4 linked regions of the Homo sapiens genome follow. The protein of the gene in region 1 interacts with the protein of each later gene in a pairwise test. Each region holds a gene or a part of one and is shown in the gene's direction. Other genes may lie near its edges. The genes, in order: ANKRD29, CABP2, CRACR2A and HLCS.

Evidence for each region.
Region 2: the proteins of ANKRD29 (region 1) and CABP2 interact in binary tests that used the Homo sapiens proteins (3 or more experiments, as listed by UniProt).
Region 3: the proteins of ANKRD29 (region 1) and CRACR2A interact in binary tests that used the Homo sapiens proteins (3 or more experiments, as listed by UniProt).
Region 4: the proteins of ANKRD29 (region 1) and HLCS interact in binary tests that used the Homo sapiens proteins (3 or more experiments, as listed by UniProt).

Annotation. Positions count from the first base shown.
Region 1 is NC_000018.10:23,598,399-23,603,912, reverse strand, and holds the end of ANKRD29 (ankyrin repeat domain-containing protein 29), read left to right. Parts: intron 1-2,603; coding exon 2,604-2,687; 3' UTR 2,688-4,987; downstream 4,988-5,514.
Region 2 is NC_000011.10:67,520,430-67,528,097, reverse strand, and holds the start of CABP2 (calcium-binding protein 2), read left to right. Parts: upstream 1-4,651; 5' UTR 4,652-4,757; coding exon of another isoform or gene 4,758-4,771; coding exon 4,772-4,813; intron 4,814-5,381; coding exon 5,382-5,552; coding exon of another isoform or gene 5,553-5,556; intron 5,557-6,115; coding exon 6,116-6,146; intron 6,147-6,938; coding exon 6,939-7,073; intron 7,074-7,668.
Region 3 is NC_000012.12:3,638,086-3,645,113, reverse strand, and holds part of CRACR2A (EF-hand calcium-binding domain-containing protein 4B), read left to right. Parts: intron 1-473; coding exon 474-519; intron 520-3,275; coding exon 3,276-3,382; intron 3,383-4,334; coding exon of another isoform or gene 4,335-4,452; exon of another isoform or gene 4,453-4,745; intron 4,746-6,656; coding exon of another isoform or gene 6,657-6,659; coding exon 6,660-6,990; intron 6,991-7,028.
Region 4 is NC_000021.9:36,963,648-36,970,915, reverse strand, and holds the start of HLCS (biotin--protein ligase), read left to right. Parts: upstream 1-4,246; 5' UTR 4,247-4,277; coding exon 4,278-4,472; intron 4,473-4,523; exon of another isoform or gene 4,524-7,268. UniProt on the Homo sapiens protein: Biotin--protein ligase catalyzing the biotinylation of the 4 biotin-dependent carboxylases acetyl-CoA-carboxylase, pyruvate carboxylase, propionyl-CoA carboxylase, and methylcrotonyl-CoA carboxylase.

The DNA of each region.
Region 1 (5,514 bases):
CGAGATGGCACCACTGCACTCCAGCCTGGGCAACAGAGTGAGACTCCGTCTTAAAAAAAAAAAAAAGAAGTAAACATGGCAGATTAGCATCCAAGATGGAGTTGCATTAGCCTCCACAGTCCCTGTGCAGTTGTTTGAATTGCAAAGTGAACCTGCCACTTTTTTCATAGATCACTATTTTTACTTGAAAGAACAAGGTATCTACCACTATGACCTTAACAGCTTCCCAAAACTTAAAGGCTTTTCTGATGGATCAGTTTTTTTGTTTGTTTGTTTGTGAGATGGAGTCTCTCTCACTATCACTCAGGCTGGAGTGCAGTGGCGTGATCTCAGCTCACTGCAACCTCCGCCTCCCAGGTTCAAGGGATTCTCCTGCCTCAGCCTCCTGAGTAGCTGGGATTACAGGCATGTGCCACCACGCCCAGCTAATTTTTGTATTTTTAGTGGAGACAGGTTTTTGCCATATTGGCCAGGCTGGTCTTAAACTTGTGACCTCAGGTGATCCACTTGCCTTGGCCTCCCAAAGTGCTGGGATTACAGGCGTGAGCCACCACGCCCAGCCAGAATGTGAGTTTTTGATATTGCACAATGAAATGTGCCAACATTCTACAAACTCAGTGAACTGATATTTTCCAAATGAGCAGTGCATGTTACAAACCATGCATAGGTAAAAGATCCAACTATAAATAGATAAACCTGTGGGTTTTAAAGTTCATTGGTATGGTTTCAAATCCCACATTGCATTTAACCTTTAAGAAACTACCATTTGTTGAGTATTGATGTGGCATCAGAGAATAATATCCACAGCAATCCAAAAAGACTGTTAAAATACTCCTTCCTTTTCCAGCTACATATCTGTGTGAAGCTTAATTTTCTTTATATCCTTCTACCAAAACAGCATATCACAATAGACAGGATACAGATGGAGATATGAGAATCCAATTGTATTCTGTTAAGCTACACATGAAAGAAATATGTAAAGCTGTTGAGCAGTGCTACTCTTCTGAGAATTTTTACTTGTTTTTGAAAATTTAATTTTTCATAACTATATTAACTTGGATTTATTATTTTTAGTGAATTAATAAATATATTTTTAAAATTTTCTCAGTTTTAATTTCTTTTTTTTTTCTTTTTGAAAATATTTTCTTTCTAAATAATAGAGATGAGGTTTCACTATGTTGCCCAGGCTGGTCTCCAACTCCTGAGCTCAAGTGGTCCTCTCACCTCAGCCTCTCAAAGTGCTAGCATTACAGGTGTGAGCCACTGCGCATAGCCCTCAGCTTTCATTTTTAATAAGTTAAAAACAAAATTTGTTAGACTCTTCAGTAATTTTTGAGAGTATAAAGGGTCCTGAAACCAACAGGTTTGAGAGCCACTTCCACATCACACCTGTTGTCAATGGTAGGGACTGGTTCACTAGATGCCTAATGGATGTATCTCAGCAGCAATGTGAAAAGAAAGGCCTTCGAGTGATACTGAGTAAGGTGGAAGGTGTTAGCCACCAATGCTCTTCTTTCCCGGGTGTCTCTTATGCTCTGGAGGTTTCCTATCTCTGCCTTCTCATCAAAAGATATCTGGCCCGGGCGCGGTGGCTCACACCTGTAATCCCAGCACCTTGGGAGGCGGAGGCGGGCGGATCACTTGAGGTCAGGAGTTCAAGACCAGCCTGGCTAAATGGCGAAACCCCATCTCTACTAAAAATACAAAATTCAGCCGAGCATGGTGGCACATGCCTGTAGTCCCAGCCACTCGGGAGGCTGAGGCAGGAGAATTGCTTGAACCCAGGAGGCAGAGATTGCAGTGAGCCGAGGTCACACCACTGCACTCCAGCCTGGGTGACAAAGTGAGACTCCATCTCAAAAAACAAAAAAAAAGACACCTGTGCTGAGTCCTGACTCAGTCCCAAGTCCTTAGTGGGCAGACTACCTCATGTCATACATTAATAAATATAAGGTAGGCTGGGCACGGTGGCTGATGCCTGTAATCCCAACACTTTGGAAGCTGAGGCAGAAGGATCACTTAAACCGAGGAGTTCAAGACCAGCTGGGGCAACATGGCAAACCCCATCTCTGGAAATTAGCCGAGCATAGTGGTGCACATCTGTGGTCCCAGCTACTCGGGAGGCTGAGGTGGGAGGATCATTTGAGCTGGGGAGGTCAACGCTGCAGTGAGCCATGATTGCAACACTGCACTCCAGCCTGGGTGACAGAGCAAGACCCTGTCTCAAAAAATAATAATAATAAAATACATATAAGGTATAACATTTAATTTGACCGGTACTTATTGAGCACATTTTAGACATGCTGGGCATTGTGCTGGAGATAAGGATACAATGATTAATTAGATCTGGACCCTTCCCCCTAAGAGATTACAGTCTAGTAAGGGATCTGGCTGGAAAATGTCTCTAAGAATGAGATAAGGATATAACAAGTAATATTTATACATTTAAAGAAGATTTGTAATACCTTTATATAAAAGAGTGAGTCCAGTGTGGATTTTTTTCATTAGTGAAGGAGAAAGAGTGGGTCAAATGCCCCTCTTTGGAGTCCCTAAAACCACACCAGCTATGGGGATTCACTAATGCCCATCTTCTCTTCTTTCAGGCCAATGAACTTCCGGCAGAACTAACCAAAAATGAACGTATATTGCGTCTCCTGAGAAGTAAAGAAGGTCCCAGAAAGAGCTAACTTAGCTCCATATTTGACAGAAAGATAGAAAGCTTAACCACATTGTCCAAAAAGAAATTGCATTTCAAGCAGTGTTGGAAATTCTTTTATGAAAAAAAAAGATGCCCAGAATGCCCATCCTGTGGGTCCCTGACAAAGAAGAGCTACGCTCTGTGCACGAAGTCAAGAACCAAACAGCTCAGGGACCCTCTTGCCCCTTCACCATGGACTTCTCATGGTGTCCTGTAACTCATCTCCCGGGGGGCCTGGCATGTTCACAGATTCCACAGAAACTCATTTTCAACAATGCTAACTTGGACCTGTCAGTTAAACTCTAAGGTGGACAGGGTTCTCAGTACTAAGCAAGGAGACAGAATGCTTTGTTCCTTTAAAAGACTGAAAAGCTGACCTTCAATGGATTGAGGCACTTTTGCTTTTGTGTTAAATGTAGATGTGCTAAAATATATAGATCTATCATATTTTACCTACATATGTATGTCATTCCAGTATAAAACATTCTCCTCTACCCAAGAACCATAGCCATGATTGTTATAAATCAATGAAGTGTAAACATACATTATTAAAAAACCACTTCTGACATTCCATTATGTGCTATTCAAAGATGGACTATTGAACTATAGAAAAGACAGACTGTGCATTTGTTCGTTGATCCTCATCTTATTCCTGACATGTAAAAATCAATTTTACGTAGAGTCAACATTGTAGGTAGGTTAAAATACCAGTGGCAAATTTGGAAATTCAGAAACTTATAAACCACGAGAAATATATAGGCTTGTCTCTTTGGTCTTTTATTTTGGCTCTATTGTTGGGAATCTATTTCCTATTCTATAAGTAAGTATACCTAACATGCTGTGGAATCTTGAGTTTCCAACACCGTGCTGCTTGATAGAATGACTTTGAGGTCCTTGGATAAAATGTGATATATGCAAGTACAGTATGTTGCTATTACTATTGCAGGAATATAAATAATAAAAGACTGTTATTAGCACTTAGTAAGTCTTCATCTATGCATGTTTTTGAGTTGACTGATTCCAAGAATGAAATATGAGGTTTATTGAATTATTCCTTTGAAAGGGATCAAAACTTATATTCAATGCACTTTATAATTAATGGTGTCTAAATGCCTCAGTCAGTGCCTAACTGCACATACAAAAATAAAACCTTCTTTCTGTAATCTACCAAAATAAACGCAATGGTATTTCTGCTATTTAAACACATCTTTAGCTTATTTCTTCATGTTCTGCTCTGGTTTTCAGTCAGTGTCTATGTAAAGACACTTTTAGAGGAAAATGTTGTAATCCCAAAAGAATTTTTGTTTAACCAACTTTCAGAGTTACTAAAAGGATTATCTTTAATTCAGTAAATAATAGAATATAATCTTCAAAATTAGAAGATATTCTCTTAAAATTTATAACAATTAATGCAACAAAAATCAGCATATTTTGATAAATGTCTCAAGCAAATGAGCAACTCACAGGCCCCACAGGTGCCTACAGCCTGACCAGCTATACAAAAAGCCTGCAACCTGATTCTAGGATAAAATATTAGAAAGCTCTCTGTTGCTAAAACATCCAGATATAAACATTTTGGTGGCTAAAATCAATGCCATTTCCTCATTGACATTCTTTTATTCAGCAAATTTGTACAAATATACATTTTCTCCTGTGCGAATTTCAAAAAGCTATATTCATTTTGAAGAGGAAAATAATATGGCATTAAATGCTTTGTATTTTCCCCTTAGTTAGCCCTTATGGCAAAAATAGTTGCTAATCACTGATACAAAGCAAAACGTTATGGGTACTGATAACAAAGTTCCAAAAGCCAAAATGGGATGAATCACAAACTTACTGTTTTTCACTAAAACATGTAATTGGCCTATTACATCAATAGTTTTAAGTGGGTAATGTTCTTGAACAATATTAGAGCCATAAAATTGAAGCCAGTAGCTTGAACAATATGGAGGCCTTCTTACTGTAGGGAAGAGGTGTCTAGCTTAGAAGGATCACATTTGATCTAGATGAGATTACCCATAGCAGGGAAAATGAATCATCACCTACCAAAGACTGTACGGAAAGGTGTGTTATTTTCAAAATTGCATTTTAGTTTGCACACATGTAAATGATTATTCTATGTTAATCTAATTGACAATTCAGTTAGCTCCGCATCCTAAGACTTAAAACTAGCAATTCCTATGCAAATCATCTGCTTAACTGAACTACAAACGTTTTTCATTAATTCATTCTTTGATGACATATTCCATGTTATATAATAATTCAAAATAAAGTTAATATACTACCCCATTTGCCTTTGCTGCTTTTTTCTTTTTGTTTTTAATCAAGAGTTATTGCTATGTGATTTTTAGTAGCATGGAATTTTAGGGTGAATAATTCAACTCTGTAAATATATTGATATTTGGGACCCTAAATAGATATTTAAACTTTATTTTAGTAATGGACCTATGATTTCATTATCTCTGCTGTAGAGAATGAAATGATTCCAAAAAGTTTTCATTCAGAAAAGAATTCTTGGGACAGTTATTTAAGATGCTGAAAATAGAAAATTTTCTGATTTGTATTATTTATGATGCTCCTGGCCCTTTAGTCCTTTGCAATAACTTTCTCTTGTGAAGTAGCTGGTGGTTTTGCAGAACTGTTGGTGTAGGAGACAATAATTTGCAGCAGTAACATCAGGAATATGGAGATTTACAGGAACATCCTGGCTTCCATCTGCTCCATCCACCCTCTGCCGCCACAAGAAAGCTACGTCTCTTCATAAATCCCACACTGAGACACCTACTCAGAGGAAAAGAGTGCCCCCAAATACCAGG
Region 2 (7,668 bases), on another chromosome or scaffold:
GGAGGCCAAGGCAGGAGGATTGCTTGAGGCCAGGAATTCAAGACTAGCCTGGGAAGCATAACAAGATGTCATCTCTGCAATAAATAAATAAAATGGCTGGGCATGGTGCCACATGCCTATAGTGCCAGCTACTCAGAAGTCTGAGAGAAAGATTGCTTGAGCCCAGGAGGTCAAGGCTGTAGTAAGCCATGAGCCACGATTGTACCACTGCACTCCAGCCTGGGTGACAGAGTGAGATCCTGTCTCAAAACACACATACACACACACACACACACACACACGACCTTCACCAGCAGTCCATCCTCCCAGCCATCTATCCACTTCCATCTATCTCTCTATCCATCTAAACCCTCATCTACCCAATCATCCATCAATCCATCAATCAAATATTCAATAGCCAGTCCATCAAGACATTCATCTATCCATTTGTCCACCTATTCATCCAACTACCCATTTACCCATATGATCGTCGGCCACCTGTCTATACATCCATCTTCCATTCACCCATCCATCTATCCAACCCTCTACCCAACCAACTATCTATGCAATCATCCATCCATCCATTTACCAATCATTGCACCACCAGCCCATCAAATCACCTACCCATCCTTCCAGCCAGCCAGCCATTCACCTGTCCATCCATCCAACTTCTCATCTACTAACCCAACTATCCATCCTCCGGTCCATCCATTCATCTATCCATCCATCTGTCCATTTAAACACCAGTTCATCAAATTATCCACCCATCCATCCAACCACCCATTTTACCCAACCAACCATCCTTCTACCCATCCTTCCCTCTGTCTACCCATTAGTCAAACCCCTGATCCACCCATCCTGGACACTGGAGCCAGGACCCCAGCTTGGCTAAGTCAGGCTGGGCAAGTTGAGGGCACCAAGATGAGAGCTCCAGGATGCTGCTGATTGAACACAAGCAGGGGGATCTCCAAGCCAGGCTTTCTCCTCCACTTAGACACAAGGCCTTTGCTCCCTGACTGAAAACTTTTTTACCCCCTATACTCTGAGTGGTTACAGACCCCACTGTTTTGGATTATACTTTGGGACATACATTTCTCACCATTTTCCACTTTCAAAGATGGTTCTTTAGACCATTCATCACGTGTGGTGCCCACCACGTTCTGCACCTTCCTATGTGCCAGGAACCTGCCAGGTCCTGTCATCTAATTTCCACAATGGCACTGGGAGGCAGATGCTAGGTCAACCTCCACTTTTCAGATGACGAAACTGAGGCTCAAAGAGGTGACATACCTTTCCCAGGGTGACACGGTGTGTGCATGGGGGAACCTAGGCCTGCCGGCCCTTTCTGTGGTCTTGCAGAGGAGAATTTCTGTCTCCGATGAATGTTTTCAGAGACGTTACCGCCTGGGAAACCAGGCCGCTCCTGCTCTCCATGTGCAGAGGTGGGACTGAAGGACACTGAAGGCTGAAGCAATGGGAATGATCACAACCAGCCTTTCCACTCACTTCTCAACCCCGGCCTGTCCTCAGATGTGGAGGCTTTCCTCTGTCTGTGAGGCCACCCCCTCCCTTTGCTCAGCCATTCCCATCATCCTCTGCTCTTGGCTAGCATGTCAGTTCCTCAACCCCATCAAGCAAGGCCCTCCCTCTTTTTTTTTTTTTTCTTTCTTTCTTTCAAGACAGAGTCTCAGTCTGTCACCCAGGCTGGAGTGCAGTGGGGCGATCTCGGCTCACTGCAACCTCCACCTCCCAGGTTCAAGTGATTCTCATACCCCAGCCTCCCGAGTAGCTGGTATTACAGGCATGCGCCACCACGCCAGCTAATTTTTGTATTTTTAGTAGAGATGGGGTTTTGCCATGTTGGCCAGGATGATCTCAAATTCCTGACCTCAAATGATGCGCCTGCCTTGGCCTCCCATGGTGTTGGGATTACAGGCGTGAGCCACCACGCCCGGCCAAGTCCTCCCTCCTGAGAACCTTGGCCCTTCCTGCACTTCCCTGGCCACTGTCATTCTGGTTTGCTGAATAGGCATCTCCCAGCAGGTGAAAGGTTCCAGGATGTAGGGACTAGTTCCAGCACCCAGGAAGGTACAGAGCAGGGGCCGGACAAACGTTTGCTGCAGATTCAGCCTCTCAAAAATTTTCTCTGACCTCCTGCCACCTATACCCTCTCCAGAGGCCACTAGCCCCTTCCTCCCTCCCAAGGGCCTCCATCCAACCCACCTGCCAGGTTCCAGCTCCTGGGGCACTCCAAGTTCAAGGCTGATCCGTGCCAGGGACCCTGGCTCTCTCCCAGGGCCAGGCACAGGTTAAACATTGATAGGCAATGCCTGCAGCATTGCCTTATCCCCTCACCTCCTCCATGAAGCCTCCCTGATGCCTGGGCCAAGGACCCCAAGTACTTGGAGACTGTCTGGTGGCTCTTTTCCTGGTTAGACATGCCTGAGAGTGGGCTTCTCTGGACAGATGGGGTCTGTCACATAGCCCCAGAAGCTGGCCCAGCCAGCCTCAGCTGTTTGCTGAGGGAATACATGAATAGATGGCCGCATGTGGCTGAGAGAGGCCAGAGCCACCAGCTCAGGTGGCAGCACCTAGTGGGATCTGGTTCCCTTAGACAAAGGCCAGTGTGGGGGACAGATGAATAAATCATGAGGGGCCTGGAATGGAGCCGGGGCAGGATGATGACCTCATTCTGGGAGTTGAAGAGCGGGCAGCTGGGTGGGGAGTGGGCTGGGGTCATGGCAAGGAAGCCTGAGAGGCCAGCAGGGGCTGCCCGGCCCACCTCCACCCCTTTTCCTTGAGAAGCAAGAGGTTGAAGGTCAGCAGGACCAGGTGGAGGTCCTGGCAGAACGCAGGGAGGTGGGCAATGCAGAGGGACCCTGGGGAGGAGAGGGGGCTAGCACAGAGGGACCCTGGGGAGGAGGGAGGGAAGGAGGGGGCTAGCACAGAGGGACCCTGGGGAGGAGGGAGGGAAGGAGGGGGCAGCACAGAGGGACCCTGGGGAGGAGGGAGGGAGGCAGGGAGGTGGGCAGCACAGACGGACCCTAGGGCTCTGGGCTGGGGAGATGGGGAAGGCCTTTCCAGAATTCTGGAGCTCTCCTGGGAGCGGGATGGTGGGGAGAATAGGAAGAGCAAGGAAGGACAGACAGAAAGACCAATGCAAGAAAGGACCTTGCAGCAACAGAGGGAAGGAGCCAGCAGAGAGATGGGCTGAGTGGGTCAGAGACGGCAGAGACACCACTGGATCCAGACTGACAGAGATGGCGGCGAGTCAGAGGGGATGGAGACGGGGCTGCAGGCAAAACAGACACAGAGGCAGAGGGGGCACAGAGGGGCAGGCGGTGAGATGGAAACTGAGCAAGGAGGTGTGTGGGGCATCAGGTGCGCGTGAGCCAGAGAGATGCAGGCAGAACACTGCGGGGGAGGAGGCCAAAGGCAGGCAGGAGGGCCGACCACTGGGGCCACAAGGATGATCAGGTGGAGCCCCGGGCACAGTCTGTGACCAGCATGAGGGGCTTCACCAGGCTGACAGGGCCACACGAGGGGCCACGGGGAGCTAGGGAGGATACAAGACTCTGGGGACACGGGGCTCTCCCAGTTTATGGAGGAAGGGACAGAAAGAAGAGTAGCAGGGACCCAGGCCACACCTGTGGCTGCCCACAAGACCACTCTCCCGCAGGACTGGGGAGGCCGGACGGAGCAGCGTCCCTCAGCCAGGAGGAGGTACCAAGCCCTCATCTCCATGGCCCAGCCCCAGGGCCCAGCAGAGGGCAGCCTCCCAACGGGGGACCCCAGCCCCTCTGAGGGCACTCCAGGAACCAGCCAGGCCCCTGGCAGCCCAGCAGCCACCCGGCGACGAGAGCTTCTCCGGGAGCTCGAGGCCCAGGTGCAGGCAGCCTACGGGCAGGTAATGCGGGCAGGGGTATGAGGGGACCAGGAACAAAGAGCAGGGACCCCACACCCCAACTGGGGGCCCCGGAGGACAGACCCAGGACTTAGTCCAGGGAGGGGACCAGGAGGCAGAGTCCAATGGGAGACTCTCTGAGGTCGGCAGGGCCGGGGTGGCTTCCCTTCCCAATCTCCACCCTCACCGAGCCCTGTCACTGCCCACAGCACATAGGCGGTTCCCTTCTGCTCCTCATCCAAGGGCGGGGCACCAGTCCAGGCAGGGGGAGCCAAGTGCAAGCAATTGGGGCTACCCCGAGGTGAGGAGCCCAGGGCCCAGCTGGGGTCCTGGCAGGGAGAGGCAGGGGCTTCCTGGGCTGAGCCAAGTGGCTGCCTCTTTCTGGGAGGCTGTGTGGGAAGGCCCGCGTGTCCATACCAACCGGAATCTGTGCCATTCGGAGGGCCCAGCCCACCCTGGCACACTGCACGCCTGCCTTCCTCCTCCTGGGACCCAGGCCCTGCTTCTGAAGACATTAAATCTCCCCTGATTGGGAGAGATTAGAGGCAGGGGTTGGGGGAGGGTGCTGGAGAAGGGGCGTCTGGAAGACCCTCAGGAGGCAGTCTGGGGAGGCTGTGCTCTCCAGGGGGCCTTGGGCCCAAGTGGCTCCCCTCAGCAGCGGAGACGCTCAAAGATAATCCCGGATTAGGACCCAAGCCCCAGGCCCAAGTCCCCCGCCTGCCCACCCGCCCCCGATCTTCCCCACAAAACCCCAGGAAAATCCCCGGCAGTACTCCCAGGCTCTCATCGGGAGCAGCTGGGGGCTGGCAGGAGTCCTCAGGCAGCAGCATCCGCCGAGGCCCACCCGGGCCACCCCCGGGGTTCCAGGCCTGGCATGGTTCAGGGCCCATGGGGAACTGTGCCAAGCGGCCCTGGCGCCGGGGCCCTAAGGTAGGAGGGGTCAGGGGAGAAACCCAGGCCAGGAGGCTGGAATGGACCCTGAGGGTCAGATGGGATGGGCAGAGCCCTCCGAGGGCCGGGCGGGGTTGGGGGCTGCCCACTGCCCCAGGTGGAGATTTTTTTCCTGGAAGCCACAGCCTCTGGCCATCCTGATCTTGGCTCCCACCGACCTCTGGGTCTCCCCTGCCAGGCTCCAGGTCCCCCAGCTGCCCGTCCAGCTGCCCCATCCCGGCTGCAGGTCCCCGCTCTCTGCTAGCCAGCCTCCATCTAGGAGACAGAGCTGGGCACAAGGTCCCTCTCTGCCGCTGGCTTTCTCAGTGGCCTTGGCCAAGTCTCTTGCCTTTTCTGGTCCTCAGTTTGCCCAACAGAACAGTTAGAGGATTGACCCTTTCTGCCTAAAGAGTTCACGGGTGAGGGTCCTCTCTCTACCCCCCAGCCCCTTCCCTACTGTCCCATGCCGGGCTCCAAAGACAGGAGCAGCTGGTGAGAGGAGTGGGGAGGGCTATCAGGCCCAGAGCTCAGCGGCCACTGCCCCAGCTCACGGCCGGCTCTGCTGCAGGACCCCTTGCAGTGGCTCGGCTCCCCACCAAGGGGCTCCTGCCCCAGCCCCAGCTCCAGCCCCAAGGAGCAGGGGGACCCCGCGCCAGGCGTCCAGGGCTACTCGGTGCTCAACAGCCTGGTGGGGCCTGCCTGCATCTTCCTGCGGCCCAGCATTGCCGCCACCCAACTCGTATGTACGGCCACCCGCCCGCCAGCCTGCCTGCCCTTGCCCCTCTCCCACCAGCTCACCTGCCCTTGCCCCTCGCACTCCAGCCCACCTACCCTTGCCCCTCGCTTTGCCTCTCCTGGAGCTAGGGGGAAGAGGATTGAGTGGGGACATCAGAGCAAAGGTACACAGATCTGGGGTGGGGGTGCAGAGAGGGGAGAGAGCAATGACTCTAGAAATGGAAGAGAGATCAACAGTGACATTGAGGCTGGCGGGACCAAGTCTGAGGTTCTGCCCAAACCCCAGATCCACCACCAGCAAAGGGAGCCCCCTGCCCCAGAAGAGGGTGATGGAGTAGGTGAGGACGGCCCAAGGAGTGACCTAGGCCAGAAGCAGGGAAGGGGGCACCCGGTTACCCAGGCCAGTGAGTAGGATGGGGTGGGAACCAGGGCCGAGCAATCAGACAGACACAGGCCCTGCGTGTGCGTGTTGGATTGTGGGGCTGGGTGGGGAGCCCCGGGAAGCAAGAAGGAAGGGCACAGTCATCAGTAGGAGCAGGGAATTCCTAACCCCTCTGTGCCCTTCAGGACCGGGAGCTGCGGCCCGAGGAGATTGAAGGTAAAGGGTTGGAGAAGGAACTGGTTCCCTGAAGGGGAGGTGGCATGGGGGGCATGGGGTGGGGACACAGGGTTGGGGGGGCATCGGGTGGGGGCCTCAGTGTTTCCAGGAGGAAGTGGGAGCAAGAAGGCTGCAGGGGACCAGTTTAGGGAAATGGGGACAAGACTGAGCAGGGAGGGGATGACAGACCCCCACCCAGCTGTCATTCCTTGGTCTCACTCACCAGGCAGGTGACAGGGCCCCTTTTATATTTGTTCATTCAGCTGACACTTCCTGGGTGCCCACTGTGTGCCTGGCCCTGGCTGAGCACTGGGAAACATGGCCAGCTAGACAGATATGGCCCGTGCCCTCTGGAGACCAACGTCAATTAGTCAGCTACAAGTACAAATGGTGCATGTGCTCTCCAGGAAAGGGACAAATGGGCCGGGGGAGGCCACATGTAGAGGGATGGCTTCCTTTAGTAGGTGACATAGGACCAAAGAGGAAGGGGAAGAGTGAGGAAATCTCCAAGAGGTCAGAATTTGTTTCCCCCACTTTCTTTCTTTCTTCCTTTTTGAAAAATTTCACTGCTGTATCCCCAGTGCCTAGAGCAGAGCTTGGCACATAGTAGATGCTCCTCAAATATTTGCTGAAAGAACAAATAACAGGAACAGCACGTGCAAAGGCCCCGAGGCAGCAAAGAGAATCTGATGTTCAGAAGGAGGGATGATTGGACCAAGGGAGAAGGGTAGGCGGGTCCAGGCCAGGATCAGGGGGTTGTGGGGGAAGGACTGACCCCACCCTGCCTGGCAGAGCTGCAGGTCGCCTTCCAGGAGTTTGACCGAGACCGGGACGGCTACATTGGCTGCCGGGAGCTGGGTGCCTGCATGCGGACCCTGGGCTACATGCCCACCGAGATGGAGCTCATCGAGATCTCACAACAAATCAGTATGTGCCTCGGACCCATCCCCATCCCCAGTCCTCCAGATGCCCCCGCTGGGCCCATGAAGCCAAGCAGTCCAGGTACACAGGTGACTGCACAGGCTGTCCCCAGAGCCCATGACCTTGGTCATTCTCAAGGCAAGCTCTCTGCCTCTGGAGAATCTCACCAGCTTCTAGGAGGTGGGCACAGCAAGGACTGTGATCCTCATTCTGCAGATGAGGCAACTGAATGGCTAAGTGACTTGTCTAAGGTCACACAGCAAGTTCCTTGGAGCCAGGACTTGAACCCAACCGAAGAGTTCAGGAAAATTAAGGAAAGTTCCAAGAAGTTTTTTGGTTTTTTTGTTTGTTTGTTTTTTGTTTTTTGTTTTTTGTTTAGATGGGGTCTTTTTCTGTCACCCAGGAGTGACAATGGCGCTATCTCGGCTCACTGCAACATCTGCCTCCTGGGTTCAAGCAATTCTCCTGCCTCAGCCTCCTGAGTAGCTGGGATTACAGGCACCTGCCACCATGCCCAGCTAATTTTTGTATTTTTAGTGGAGACGGGGTTTCACCATGTTAGTCAGGCTGGTCTCGAACTCCTGACCTCAGGTGATCCACC
Region 3 (7,028 bases), on another chromosome or scaffold:
TTTTGTTTTGGTCATTGGTGTGACCTTGATGGCTAGAAGAGTGCCTGACATGCAGTGGGTGCTCAGGAGACATTTGAGTGAATGCGTGCATGCATGCATGAGTGAATGAATGAATGAATGGTGCACAGAGAGAAAGAAAGAGGGAGCCCAACAGGAAGCTCCCAGGTGGAGCTGGAATGCTGAGGTCCCCTCTGTAGGCAGTGCCCCTAATAATAAGAGAGGCCATGCATAATCCTGATGGGCCACGGGTGTCTCAAGGGCATTCAGTCTATCCCCCACATCTGTGTGTACCTATCTGTACACAAAAACTATCCTCTACCATTAATCACATCCCTATGGAAGGAGATTCCACAGACTCCCCTGTCTTCCATACCACACCTTCCCCTGCACCCATCTGAATAGCAAATTGGCTGCCGTTGGATCTGTCAACTGCAAACTCCATGTTTGAATAGATTCCCCTTTACCATCCACAGGGAAAGGAACAAGCACCTTCGGGATGAACGGGACATATGTTTTCAGGTAATTGGCCAGTTCTCCCTTACCTGTGGGGGACCAAGGGCTGTGGTCCACTGGACAGCCAGATCCATGTCGAGACTGGCCCAGCAATGTCCTGACACTCGGGATCTATTTGGCAGGATGACGGCATGAAAACGTTTTGCAAATAATAAAAATTCAGGGTGGCCTACTGGGTAACAACGTGTTAATTTTCCACAGAGTAATGCAGTTTCCTCTTGGCACAACAAGACTGAAATATTTGGGAGGGTCGCACATTTCTTGGATGCAGAAATGATAGTTCTATCCATGAGATGGCGCAGTTGAAATGTCATTATCACTTCTAAACCAAAATGCTCACACCGTTCTTCTTCATTTAAATTTTTATCTCGATGAAAATTTTGCATTTTATACTGTCATAGACCACATTAGAAATGTGTATTTCACTGTTTTCATACTTGATTTTATGAACAATTTTTCTCTATCCTATAGGGACCCCTACTCTTCCATACCTGAGTACCATGTCTCTCTCTCTATATATATGTAGTGTGTGCATATATATATATATATATGAGTCGTAGAATCACAAAACTGCTAAGCACTTTGAGGTCATCTGGACTGCCCTCTCCACCTCTAGTATTAACGGATGAAATTCCCAGCTGTGAACCCCAAAGTGCATTCTGCAGTTTATATATATATATATAATATAAATATATATAATATATATTATATATTAATATAAATATATATAATATATATAATATAAATATATAATATATATTATATATATTTATATATAATATAAATATATATATAATATATATTATATAAATATATATATAAACTATATATATATAGTCTGTGTGCATATATATGTATGTATGTGTATATGTGTGTGTATATGTATGTACATATATATATATACACACACACACTTTCCTAAACGACATGAAATCCTATATTTATTTGAAGGTCTTCACTGTGGACCACATTGGCCAAAACCTAGGATTCCATGTTCTTACTCATCTTTCCCTTTAGACAGGAGCCACTGGGTGCTTTGAAGGGAAGAAAAATGAAGGCCAAATTGATTGATGTGACTTCCTAATTATCAGGGTTACCATCCTATGAATTTCATGTGGGTCCCTGGGCAAGTCATTTACTGCCTTGGACCATGACCTCCGCTGTCACGCGAGGAAAGTGAATTCCCATCCCCCCTCCATACAACAGGAATCTTTGAGAAAGATTCTTGGAAAGGGGATGATGTGGATTGCACCCTTAGCTGAACGGTGACCTAGATATGGTCAGCAGAAGGCAATTGGTTTGCCCTAAATTAGATCTGACCTGCTTTATAATTGCAAATCCCTGAGGGACTGCATTACGCCACAGTTTCTTTTCCATTGCTGACTGGCAGCAAACATCTCTGCCACCCACCTGTGTGTACTATTAGAGCAAGACTTGAGCCTACACATGTTTGTTTGATGATGATAATGGTTATAATTGTTTTAGAAGTAACACTGAATTTATTTTAAAACTTCCAACCAAATGTCACCCGAATCCCTTCACCTCCCTTCCCTTTACCTGCCAAACTCATTCTGCTTTGAAAGGGGTATGGAATTAAGAACTTCTGTGGGGAATCAAAGAAAGGGATAAATTCAATAAGAATTGAAGATTGATTTAGAATCAGCATAGCCATACCTTCAGGGGCTCTGGGAGCATTGCAGCCCCTCCTCTCATTAAGGATCACTGGGAATCATGGGATGGCTAATTAACGAGAGAGATTTCCTGCAGTCTAACTCCCCCGCCTCATCTCCTGGAAGACATCTGTCAGGGAGCATAGGCAAAGGGGGTTGTAAACCCCTGCTCCACCCAGGTCCTGTGTTACAGATGTTAGTAGTTTATCTACACCCAGCCTACTTCCACCAAAGAGCTGAACTACCTTATGCTAGCTCAGGACAGAACACTGAGTTAATTGATCCTCCTGGCTAGTTACTTTCTCATTACATCTGAGGCTTTAGAAATAAAAAGGGATTGGAGCCAGACAGAAGAGTGTGAATTAAAGATTCACAGAGTTTTTTATGCCTGTAAATATTTTTTCTTTTTTCTATCTGACCAGGCGTGGTGGCTCACTCCTGTAATCCCAATACTTTGGGAGAGTGAGACAGGAGGATCACTTAAGGCCAAGAATTCAAGACCAGCCTGGACAACATAGCAAGAGTCCATCTCCACAAAAAATGAGAAAATTAGCCAGGCATGGTAGGGCGCCTATAATCCTAGCTACCCAGGAGGCTGAGGCTAGAGGATTGCTTGAGTGCAGGAGTTTGAGGCTGCAGTGCGCTGTGATCATGCCATTGCACTCTGACCTGGAAGACAGAGCAAGACCCTGTTTCAAAAATATAGATATATTTTTTCAGAAGAGATAAGTGTTTAATGTATATTTTCTAGATGCATTAGAAATATGTATAGAAAATATGCATTAAACACTTATCTCTTCTTTTCCTTTTACAAATCATCAGTGCTCCTGTGAATAGCATGATGGGCCCCAGGCTGTAAACTGTGCACTTGTTCATTTGATTAGCTGACTGGAAAGGAGATGGAGGGATTCTGGTAGGGGATGATGGCAAAAGGGAAGAGTGGCTAGACGCTAACAGGGAGACCAGAACACTGCCTACTCCTTTCAGAGTTTTGTGTAGAGCCTAGTCTATGAGGTGGGAACCATGAGCCCTTTTCTGTTCAAACATCGGAGCAAATAGGCATGGATCTGAGGACATTTTGTGTTTCTACAGAAAAATAAGGCAGCCAAGGCAAACACAGCTGCTTCCAGGGCAAGTTGGAAAAAGAGATCTGGCTCTGTGATAGGCAAATATGTGGACAGCAGAGGGATTCTTAGGAGGTAAGTCATCTCCACTTGCTCATCCCTTCATTCCTCTCAGGCTCATTGGGAGCTGGCTCTGGGCCCATACTCAGTGCCTGCTGACCCCTTGAGAGGTGCGGAAACTGAGGTCAGCTGCACTCACTCCCCTCAAATCTTGGAACACATGCCCCTCCCTGTTCTGACATCTAAGCCAGAGGGGGAATGTGCAGAGCAAACCCCACAGGACAGACCATTGTCTTCTGAGGCTGCCCCACCCTACTGTGTGTTTGCAGAGAGGGACTGCAGAGCAGCAGAGGAGAGGGGTCAAGGGAGAGGGAGGGAGTGTGTAGCTGGGTAGCACTACACTGCTGTCTGCTGAGCAGAATGGATGCACTTGGTTTCGGGGTTTTTGTTGTTGTTGTTTTTTGAGACAGAGTCTTGCTTTGTTGCCCAGGCTGGAGTGCAGTGGTGCAATCTCGGCTCACTGCAACCTTTGCCTCCCAGGTTCAAGCGATTCTCCTGCCTCAGCCTCCCAAGTAGCTGGGATTACAGAGGTGCGCCACCACGCCCATCTAATTTTTGTATTTTTAGTAAAGATGGGATTTCTCCATGTTGGCCAGGCTGGTCTTGAACTCCTGCCCTCGTGATCTGCCCGCCTCGGCCTCCCAAAGTGCTAGGATTACAGGTGTGAGCCACCGTGCCCGGCCAATGCACTTGGTTTTTTAGGAACATGACTATATTGGCTATGAAGGTTAATTAAACTGTCAAATAGAATCTCCAATAGTTAACTCCTTTTACAGACAAGGCTAGGGCTTGTGCTTGACAGATCGTTTCCATGACCTATATTTAATTAACTCAAACATAACACATTTTGTTGCTCTTGGGCAGCACATGATTGAGCTTGAGTACCCAAGGGTTGGCTCATTGCTCATTGAGAGACAAACCAGTCCCCTGCCCACTCTTCATTTTGGCATGTGCTGTGTCCACATAGATGGCCACAGAGAGATAGAGGCATCCCGACTCTTCAGTATCAGACCCAGAGAGACCTTGAAGACTGCAAGCATGAAATGAAAAAGATATGCAAAGCGGAAGTGACTCTGGAGATGTAAATCAGCTCATCAGTAAAACCTTTGGGCCTGATCATCATGAATTCTTGTTCTAAATAGCTGAATAATGAGATACAATTTGGGAGCCAAATCTCTGCAATAGTGGTTGGCCTGTTGGTTCCTCAGAATGGAATGGATTGATTGATTGATTCAGCAGACGTTTACTGATTACCTACTGTGTACCAGACATTCTTTTGAGTTCTGTAAAGCCTCCAAAAATAAATTAGACATGAGGTCCTACCATTAATCTCCATTATTAAATGCTCACTTAATAAATATTTATTGAGTGTCTACTATGTGTGAGGTCCTGTGCTCTTTGCTGGATATACAGTAGTGAGCCAAATGGACCTACCTCTGTGTCATTGAATTTCTGGTTGAGTGGAAGAAGCAGACAATAATCAAGTAAGCAACAAATTGTGAGCCCTGAATTCTAATGCAGACTTTGACAAAAGTAGCTGCTGTCCCTACGGATGGCAGAGAGCACTTGGTGGTAAAACCAAAAATGAACTCAGTCATGCCGTGATGCAGGTATTACAGAATGGCAGTAGTGCTTGAGAATTTCCCAGACAGAAAGCTTTTTCCAAGAAATGCTTTGTTTTAATGCCTGTTTAAGTGACTATTTCTTTTCTGGTTGCAAAGCCTTTGAAAAAACATGCTCTGTGTGTGTGTATGCGTAGTTGCTCATGTGTACATACAAATAGTCACTTGTGTGTGTGTAAGCAGAGTAAAAGTAGATGGGAATACCAATTGTGTTCTTAAACAAATAAGCACTTAATAAGCTTGATGCAATATATAGGAAGTTTGCTGGAAAGAAGACATTTGGCTTTTTTAAAACTGTTTTTATAAGTCAAAGGAAAGGTGCTTTAATTGCTGCAAATCCTTTATTTTTCATATCAAGGAATCCAAACTAATTCACCCTTTCTTCAAGCAAGCACTATATCGTAATTTATCTTGCAGAATCGCAGTTAATTTCAGGATGGTGATACCTGCATTTTTTTTTCTTTTTCCTTTCTACTGTTGATCTTTAAGAGTAATACATATTTTAAATTAGGGAGCAAAAGAAAGTGTATTTCTCTGTTCTGCATATTCTGTGTCCTTCATTTAGTTCCTTTCTCCTTTGGCTCTATCACCCCACTGCTTCATCCCCATTCCATTTTCTTTTCTAGTCTGTGTGCATGCTTGCATGCGTGTGTGTGTGTGTGTGTGTTTCAATTCTGGACTTAAGGTCCTCCCTGTCAAACTTCCTTTAAGACAATTTCTGTGAGGCCTTTGCTCTCAAAACCTACTGAAAATACAGACCCTGCATTGACCCCCACATCCAGTTCCCCGATTCCCTGCACTGCCTACAGCTTCTCCTTGCCCTTAGTGCTCAAATGCTTCTAGAAGATATTTAGGCCTCTGAGCCACTTACTCCTGATTGTGACTTCTAGGGATACAGAAAGGGGAAGAGAAAGGGAGAGGAAGGAGAGGTGGATGGAGATGCTCTGCCTGGCTTTCTTCTGACCCAAAGCCTCTTGTCTAGGGGGAAGCTGCCTGTGAGCCAGCAGACCTGCTATGTCTGGAGGTGGGGGGCCCTCCCAAAGCAACAGCACCCCTCACACTGCTGAGGATGTTTTGCAAACATGTCTGTTTTTATGCATTGACTTATTTGGGAATAGAGCAGATGGGCCACGTTTTACAGCAAGGTCTGAAGAGTTGGAGTGTCCTACCTAAGGACACACAGTGAGTAAGGGCTGGCGCTGGGGGCAGAGCCAAGGTCATCTGCTAATGTTAATCGGGGGCGCTTTATTAAAATCTGAGTCTGAGACACGTTTCTTCACAACCTTTCCTTCTCCTTCACAGCAGTCTCACAATTTGTAAAGGATGTATTTATTTGTGTCATTATTGCTTTAGTCCCCCACTAAATCAAGTATTCTGTGAGGACAGGGATTATGTCCATCTGTAAATGGCATCTTTACTTAATACTTGGTCATCATCATCATCATCTTTGTCATCATCTGCCACAGCAGTGGCAGCAGGCACTTAGTGGAAGCGTGTTGAATGAATGAGCTGCAGAATGCTGGCTGGTTTGTTTTTCCCTCTCCCGGACTGCTCTTGTCCAAAGGTGTGATGCTCCTTGGGTATCTGTTCGTCACAAAAGCTGTTATGCAGCCCGTATTGAAATATTTTGTGAAATCCTCCCAACTCTTCTCTCTTCCCCGCCCCAGTAGCCAGTCAGAGGAGGAGGAGGAGGTGTTTGGCATCCCAAGGAGAAGCTCCCTGGGCCTGAGTGGATATCCCCTAACAGAAGAGGAGCCAGGAACCGGGGAGCCAGGGCCTGGGGGTCCGTACCCCCGGCCGCTCCGCAGAATCATCTCCGTTGAAGAAGACCCCCTGCCCCAGCTCCTGGATGGTGGCTTTGAGCAACCCCTGAGCAAATGCTCAGAAGAGGAAGAGGTCTCTGACCAGGGGGTACAGGGACAAATCCCGGAGGCCCCACCCTTGAAACTCACCCCCACATCCCCCCGAGGGCAGCCTGTTGGAAAAGAAGCCCTGTGTAAGGTAAGGGCACAGCCTACCTTGGTTCATGCACATCACTT
Region 4 (7,268 bases), on another chromosome or scaffold:
TTCACGCCATTCTCCTGCCTCAGCCTCCTCAGTAGCTGGGATTACAGGCGCCCGCCACCACGCCTGGCTAACTTTTTTGTATTTTTTAATAGAGACGGGGTTTCACTGTGTTAGCCAGGATGGTCTCGATCTCCTGACCTCGTGATCTGCCCATCTTGGCCTCCCAAAGTGCTGGGATTATAGGCGTGAGCCACTGTGCCCGGCGAAGATTTTCTACATAGTTCCTTGGTTCTTAGAAAGTATCCCAGGCTGGGCACGGTGGCTCACGCTTGTAATCCCGGTACTTTGGGAGGCCGAGGCGGGTAGATTGCTTGAATCCAGGAGTTCGAGACAAGCCTGGGCAACATGGCAAAATCCTGTCTCTACAAAAAAATATAAAAATTAGCCAGGTGTGGTGGCATGTGCCTGTAATCCCACAACTTTGGGAGGCTAAGGTGGGCAGATGGCTTGAGCTCAGGAGTTGGAAACCAGCCTGGGCAACAGGGTAAAACCTTGTCTCTACAAAAAATACAAAAATTAGCCAGGTGTGGTGGCTCATGCCTGTAATCCCAACACTTTGGGAAACTGAGGAGGGAGGATTGCTTGAGCCCACGAGGTCGAGGCTGCAGTGAGTCGGGATTGCACCACTGCCCTCCAGCCTGGGTGACATAGCAAGACCCTGTCTCAAAAACAAACAAAACAAGCTATCCTTCTCAGCTCTGGCCATTTGACTGATGAGAATTCTGAATGCTCTCCAAGTTCAAACAGGTACTGAGTTAATGTCAGTATGATAGGCTTTCCCTGGGGAAGTTCTGCCATGTATTTAATGGGGGATAGGACAGTAAACACTCTACTCTCTCTTGTCCCCAAACTATTATTCCCAGGGCATGCCTTCCTAAGGGCAAGAAACTAGAGACTTTTTGAGTCTGTGGAGACTTTTCCTATAGAAAGCCGGTCATGTTGATGGGTTTCAGAGGTGGTCTTCAGTGGCTAGCTGGGTCATTCTTGTTCCTTTCTGCAGTGTTCTTATAAATGACAAAGTCTTGCTTCTAAATCCCTAGTCTGACCGGGCGCGGTGGCTCACGCCTGTAATCCCAGCACGTTGGGAGGCTGAGGTGGGACGATCACCTGAGGTTAGGAGTTTGAGACCAGCCTGGCCAACATGGTGAAACCCCATCTCTACTAAAAATACACAAATTAGCCAGGTGTGGTGGCATGTGCTTGTAATCCCAGCTACTCGGGAGGCTGAGGCAGGAGAATCACTTGAACTTGGGAGGCGGACGTTGCAGTGAGCTGAGATCGCGCTGCACTCCAACCTGGGCAAGTGAGACTTCATCTAAAAAAAAAAAAAAAAATCCCTAGTCTGTGGTCTTATTTTCCACATCATTTTGGAAATGTCTTATTAGAGTCTAGAGTAGCCCAGACCCAGGGAATGACAGAGGAAGATGTTAGCAGTGCTTCTCTAACTTTAATGTGTTTGTGAGTCTCCTGGGATTTTGTCAAAATGCAGACGCTGATTTGGGGTTGGGTGGGGCCTAGGATTCCGCTTTTCTTGCGAGCTTCCAAGTGATGCTGCTGCTGCTGCTCTAAGGACCACACTTTGAGCAGTGAGGGACTACAGGATGAGGATCAGGTGCATACACATTAATATCCCTTGGTGTATTATTTTTGCATCCTTCCCCTATTCCTTTGTTATATAGGGGTGATGAAACTCAACTCTATCCTTGACCTTTGCAAAATGAAATCATTTTAGGGCGGGATCATAAACAGAGCTTGTTATGTGACTGTTTCACTTCTCACTGTGCCCTTCATATCTTCCTCCCTCTATTCCTTCCCCAGGCATGAATGGTATCAGTACTCTTCAATGCAAGGGTCAGCTCATGTTGAACCATGGTGGTCCCCATGCTTTTAACCTAGAATTGGTATACAGGATTGACCCCAAAATGTAATTTTCCCATGATGTATTCTGAGACCATATCTCGAAACACCTAAGGGTAAACCTAGAAAATTCCTATTGGCCAGGTGGAGTTAGAGTACCTGTGGGAAGGTGTGGTCTCAAAACCCTTAGGGAATTTGGAAAAACTGGAGATGTTGGTCACCTTCAGATAGAGGAGATGACCTCTCCATACCTAGCAGGGGTGGGGAGTGGTCCTTATAGCCATAATTCAGCAAACTTCAAGAAGGCTATCTGAAAGGTTGTTCAGTGAAACATTTAGGATTTATCACTGTTGAGCACTTTTCATCTTCAAATTCCTGACTTGTAGTCCTGTGTTGTCCTGGAGTGGCCAAGTCTCTCCTCAGCGGGAACTGCACGTCCTTCTCCAGTGACACAATTTTAAGGTCTTGTTACCATGCAGGAACCCACTTTCCGGCTGCCACTGTCCTGTAGAGAAGTGTAGGATATGGCTTTAGTCCTGTTTATCACTTTGTTTTTCTTCTATTTCTGGTCCACAGAGATGCTTGCTTTTAAGCCCAGTTATTTCTTTTTGGATTTTCTCTCTTTTAAAAATCTATCGCTATATGCAAGGGGGAAAATATACTATGTTATCTAACCAAAAGTCTGAAGTTCTGGGAGTGGGTGTTCTATGCAGCTATATTAAAGCAGATGAACAAATGGCCAAGGTACTTTAAAAATCTATCTTTATGGCTAGGCGCCATGGCTCAAACTTGTAATCCCAGCACTTTGGGAGATCCAGGCAGGAGTTTGACTGCTCGAGACCAGGAGTTTGAGACCAGCCTGGGCGACACAGCGAGACCCTGTCTCTATGAAAAATAATTTCTAAAAAATTAGCTGGGCATGGTGGCCAGGAAGATCACTTCAGCTCAGAGTTCGAAGCTGCAGAGAGCTGTGATTATGCCACGGCACTCCAGCCTGGGCGACAGAACGAAACCTTGTCTCTTAAAAAAAATCTATCCTAGCTGGGCGCGGTGGTTCACGCCTGTAATCCCAGCACTTTGGGAGGCAGAGGCGGGTGGATCACCTGAGGTCAGGAGTTCGAGACCACCCTGGCCAACGTGGTGAAACCCTGTCTCTACTAAAAATACAAAAGTTAGCCAGGCATGGTGACGGGCACCTGTAATCCCAGCTACTCGGGAGGCTGAGGCAGGAGAATCGCTTGAACCCAGGAGGCAGAGCTTGCAGTGAGCCGAGATTGCACCACTGCACTCCAGCCTGGGTGACAGAGAGAGACTGTCTCAAAAACAAACAAACAAAAACTATCCTTAGATTAAGACATGGACGTGGTGTACATGATTGCTTTTGCTGCATCTTGCCACCTATTTTCAGCGAGGGCCAGAATAGGAAGCCACTGGATGGAATTCTTTGCTGTGCTTCGCAGCTGTTCAGAACACGTTCTTTACATAATGCCTTTTAAAGAAATGAGGTTCTATGGGAGAAGCCTCTGTGTCAGGACTAATTATGCTTCCCTTGGAGACAAGAACACCAAATCATGGTGATGTTTTCCTTTTCCCACTGGTGTTAGGATGCTTACAGTCAAACTGTTGACCCACATGTAGCAAGAACACCATAGGGAGCCTTCCTGGCACAGCCTTTTTAGAGGCAGCCTTCTTGGTGCTTATCTGTCTTCAATTTCTGTTTCCTGTCCTTATTTAAAAAAACATTATTGCATCCCGTGAATGTATGTGATTGACCTTAAAATCTTTTGCATGAAGGCTTAGTATAATTTAATAAAAACGGCCTTATCTTATTTTCCCAAGTCGACTGGGTAGCGGCTGTGGAGCGCTCTGGGACTCCCGGTGTGCTGCTGGTTAGTAAAGGTTGGCCTTGGCAGCTATGAACATAGGCAGAGCCCCCTCCTCAATCCGCCTCCCACCCCTCCAAGGAAGGGAGGCCGGACTTGGCTTAAACAGGTCGGGCAGCCACTGGAGCCTCCCCTCCCCCGCATCCACAACATACCCATCCCACTCCTCAGCCCTGGCGCGGCCCCGCACCCCGGCCTCCACTCCCTCGAGCCCCCTCTCCGGGTGCAGCCCCGGCGTCCCCTGACCCCGGTGCACACCCCCCGCCCCAGCGCTGCCCCTCGCCGCCGCCACCAGCCCTGGGCGCGGCCTCCGGAGCTCCCCATCACACAGCCGGGCGCGGCCTCACCCCCCCCCGCCCCTCCCGCCGCAGCCTCCAGTTGCCCGCGTCACCTTCCGGGTCCCCGCCTCCCCCGCCGTCCCCACCCCCGCGCCGCCTGGCCCGGGGGGGCGGCGCGGCCCTTCCGGCCGGGGCGGGGCCGGGCCTGGGGCGCTGGGGCGGGCGGGCAAGGCGGGCTCGCCCTGCCGGCGGCGCGGCCATGCTCATCACGCTGTGCTACCTGTACCTGTGGGCGCGCTGGGGTCGCCGGCCGGCTGAGCTCGTGCGCGCCACGGTGCGGCGGCTGCGTGCCTCGCGCTGTTCCTTCACCTTCTGCGGCGCGGCCGCGCAGCCCCCGGGCGCCCGCGTGTGCCTGAGCCGTGGCGGCCGCGTCTTCTGCGTCAGCGACAGCCAGGTGGGCGGGTCGGGCGGGCGGGCGACCCGGGCCCCGCGAGCCGGAAGTGCCCCCGTCCCTGCGCCTCGTCCCCGCCGGGAGCCCGGGAGTTCGGGAGCCCCGGAGTGGCGCCCTCAGTGCGGCCTGTGCGGCCCGGGAGGGGCTGTTGCCCCGGGGCCCAGAGAGAGGCCGGAGGTGCGGGACTCGGACCACGGACCCGGTCGCCTCTTCCCGGCCAGCCGGGCGGTGCTGGACGCGTGACTCTAGGCGCGCACCTGTGAGGACGTGAGCTGTGGATTGACAGCCGGACGCCAGCAGTGCCCACCTGGGGTCGCCCCCAACCTCCTCTCCCACACTTCGAGCCGGCGTTTGGGTGACCGTGAACCAGGAGAGACAGCTGTGGCGGGCCGGGAGCGGTGGCTTATGCCTGTAATCCCTGCACTCTGGGAGGCCTAGGAGGAAGGACAGCTTTGAGCCCAGGAGATGGAGACCAGCCTGGGCAACATAGCTAGACCCCTCTCTACAAAAAACAAAACAAAAAAAACACTTAGGTCGGCGTGGTGGCACGCGCCTGTAGTCCCAGCTACTCTGGAGGGTGAGGCGGGAGGGTCACTTGATCCCGGGAGGTTCACTTGAGCCCCGGAGTTTGAAGCTACAGTGAGCTATGATTGAGCCATTGCACTCCAGTCTGGGTGACAAAGCAAGACCCTGTCTTAAGAAAAAAAAAAAAAAATCCCAAACAAAAAACTCCCACCTGTGTCATCAGCTTTTTGTCAGATGTCCCCAAATTTACAAAAACTGCCCTTTTCCCTCTCCATCTTCTGTCAGTTGGTTGCATCATTCACCAACTTGGGCACCCGACTGATGGTCTTTGCGTCTTTTAAATTTCAGTTGACAGTCAGCCTTTGTTTTTTTTGACCCAGTGCTTAGGATGGTGGTTACGTGTTCAGCCCACTCTGTCACCTACCTTGTGACTTGGGCCAGTCAATTAATCTCTGTAAAAAGTCTGCTGCCTTGCTGTAAAGGGAACAATAGATCTTTCCATTCAGCTGTTTTTGGAAATGGGCTTAGCTTCACAGTGCAGTACTGCACAAAATTTCATGGACATCGGTAGCATTGTTCTCATTAATATTTAAACGTGTTTTGCTTTTAATCTGTTTCTTGTCCCTTTCCTCTGTTTTCTGGAATATTGCCTCACTTTTAGCACTAAAATGACGTTTTCTGCATATGTCACACCGTAAAGCCCCTGTGGGGAATTGAATCTTATCTCAGGTTTGAACATTGCCTGGAGGCTGTGCTTAGATATGGGTTGAAATTGTGCCACTAGCAAATAAAAAATACTCTTTCTTGTTAGTACCATATATGTATTATGTCACACTGAATATGAATGACTGTTTTCTCAGGTCCCCCAAGGTACTAGTTATGCAAATAACTAGTACCACCTCCACATAACTGACACTACCCAGACAAAAGGGGAAGAAGTTCATGCATTACATACAATGTATGGCTTAGAGCGTTGGGAATTAACCTGATTGAGAAAGATAACTCAATAAAATGGCAAAAAATTGAGGGGTGAGCTTTTTGTAGTAGTTTCCAAATTGGATCAATTACATTTAGGATTTAAGTCAGAATAGAAATTTTGGACATATAAAAACATGGAGATGGGAATGTCTGATTTTCTTGGACAGTTTTACTTTTGAACATTTTCATGACTCCGCTGGCCTTCTGTTAACTACACTAACCATAACTAGTGATTTTCAGCCCTTGCCTACCTGTGCAGGCCGGAGTAGGAGTGGCCTGGTGCTTTCATGGATTCTGTAACTCTGCTCTGTCACTCTGCACAGTAAGCTTTGCCTACAGATTTGGTTAGATATTGCTGCGTCATTTCCTAGTTTTCCAGACTAGATGGGATGGCCATGCTCTGCATCCCTGTAGCCTTTAAATCACAGTTCCTATTCTAGTTCGTATCTTTTTCTTATTAGGAAATGAGACTGTTTAGCATAGCAGCTTGACCTGAAATAGTAAATTTAATAGTTGTTGGGTTTAAGCTGTGATGTTGAAGGTCTACAGGTGGAAAGCTTGACCATTTATTTGTGGTTGGCTACTGTTATTTTGAGATTTAAAATATGATCAGGTTGATGATTTGGTGGATATCTCAGTCTGCTTGGGTCTACTTTTGAGGGATACCTCAGTCTACTTGGGCTGAAATAAGGACACACCTGAATCTCATGCCCATATGTTGAGATGGATCTCATTCTGTCACCCAGGCTGGAGTGCAGTGGCGCGATCTCCGCTCACTGCAATCTCCACCTCCCAGGTTCAAGTGATTCTCCTCCTTTGGCGTCCTGAGTAGCTGGGATTACAGGCATGAGCCACCACGCCTGGCTAATTTTTGTATTTTTAGTAGAGACAGGGTTTCACCAAAGTGTTGGCCAGGCTGGTCTCAAACTCCTGACCTCAGGTGATCCGCCCACCTTGGCCTCCCAAAGTGCTGGGATTACAGGTGTGAGCCACCAAGCCTGGCGTGTTCTCATATGTTATACACTTAAAATCAAATGCATGAATACTGAATATGTGTGTTTATAATTGAATGCCCTACAATCAATTGATAAGTTTAACCAAAGACAGTTTATACAAATTGGCAGTATCAAGCTTTTTGTCTGTTTAATGTACACATTCTATGCTTGGATAAAGTGGACATACTTTTTTTTTGAGATGGAGTTTTGCTCTTGTTGCCCAGGCTAGAGTGCAATGGCACGATCTCGGCTCCCCGCAACTTCTGCCTCCCGGGTTCAAATGATTCTCCTGCCTTAGCCT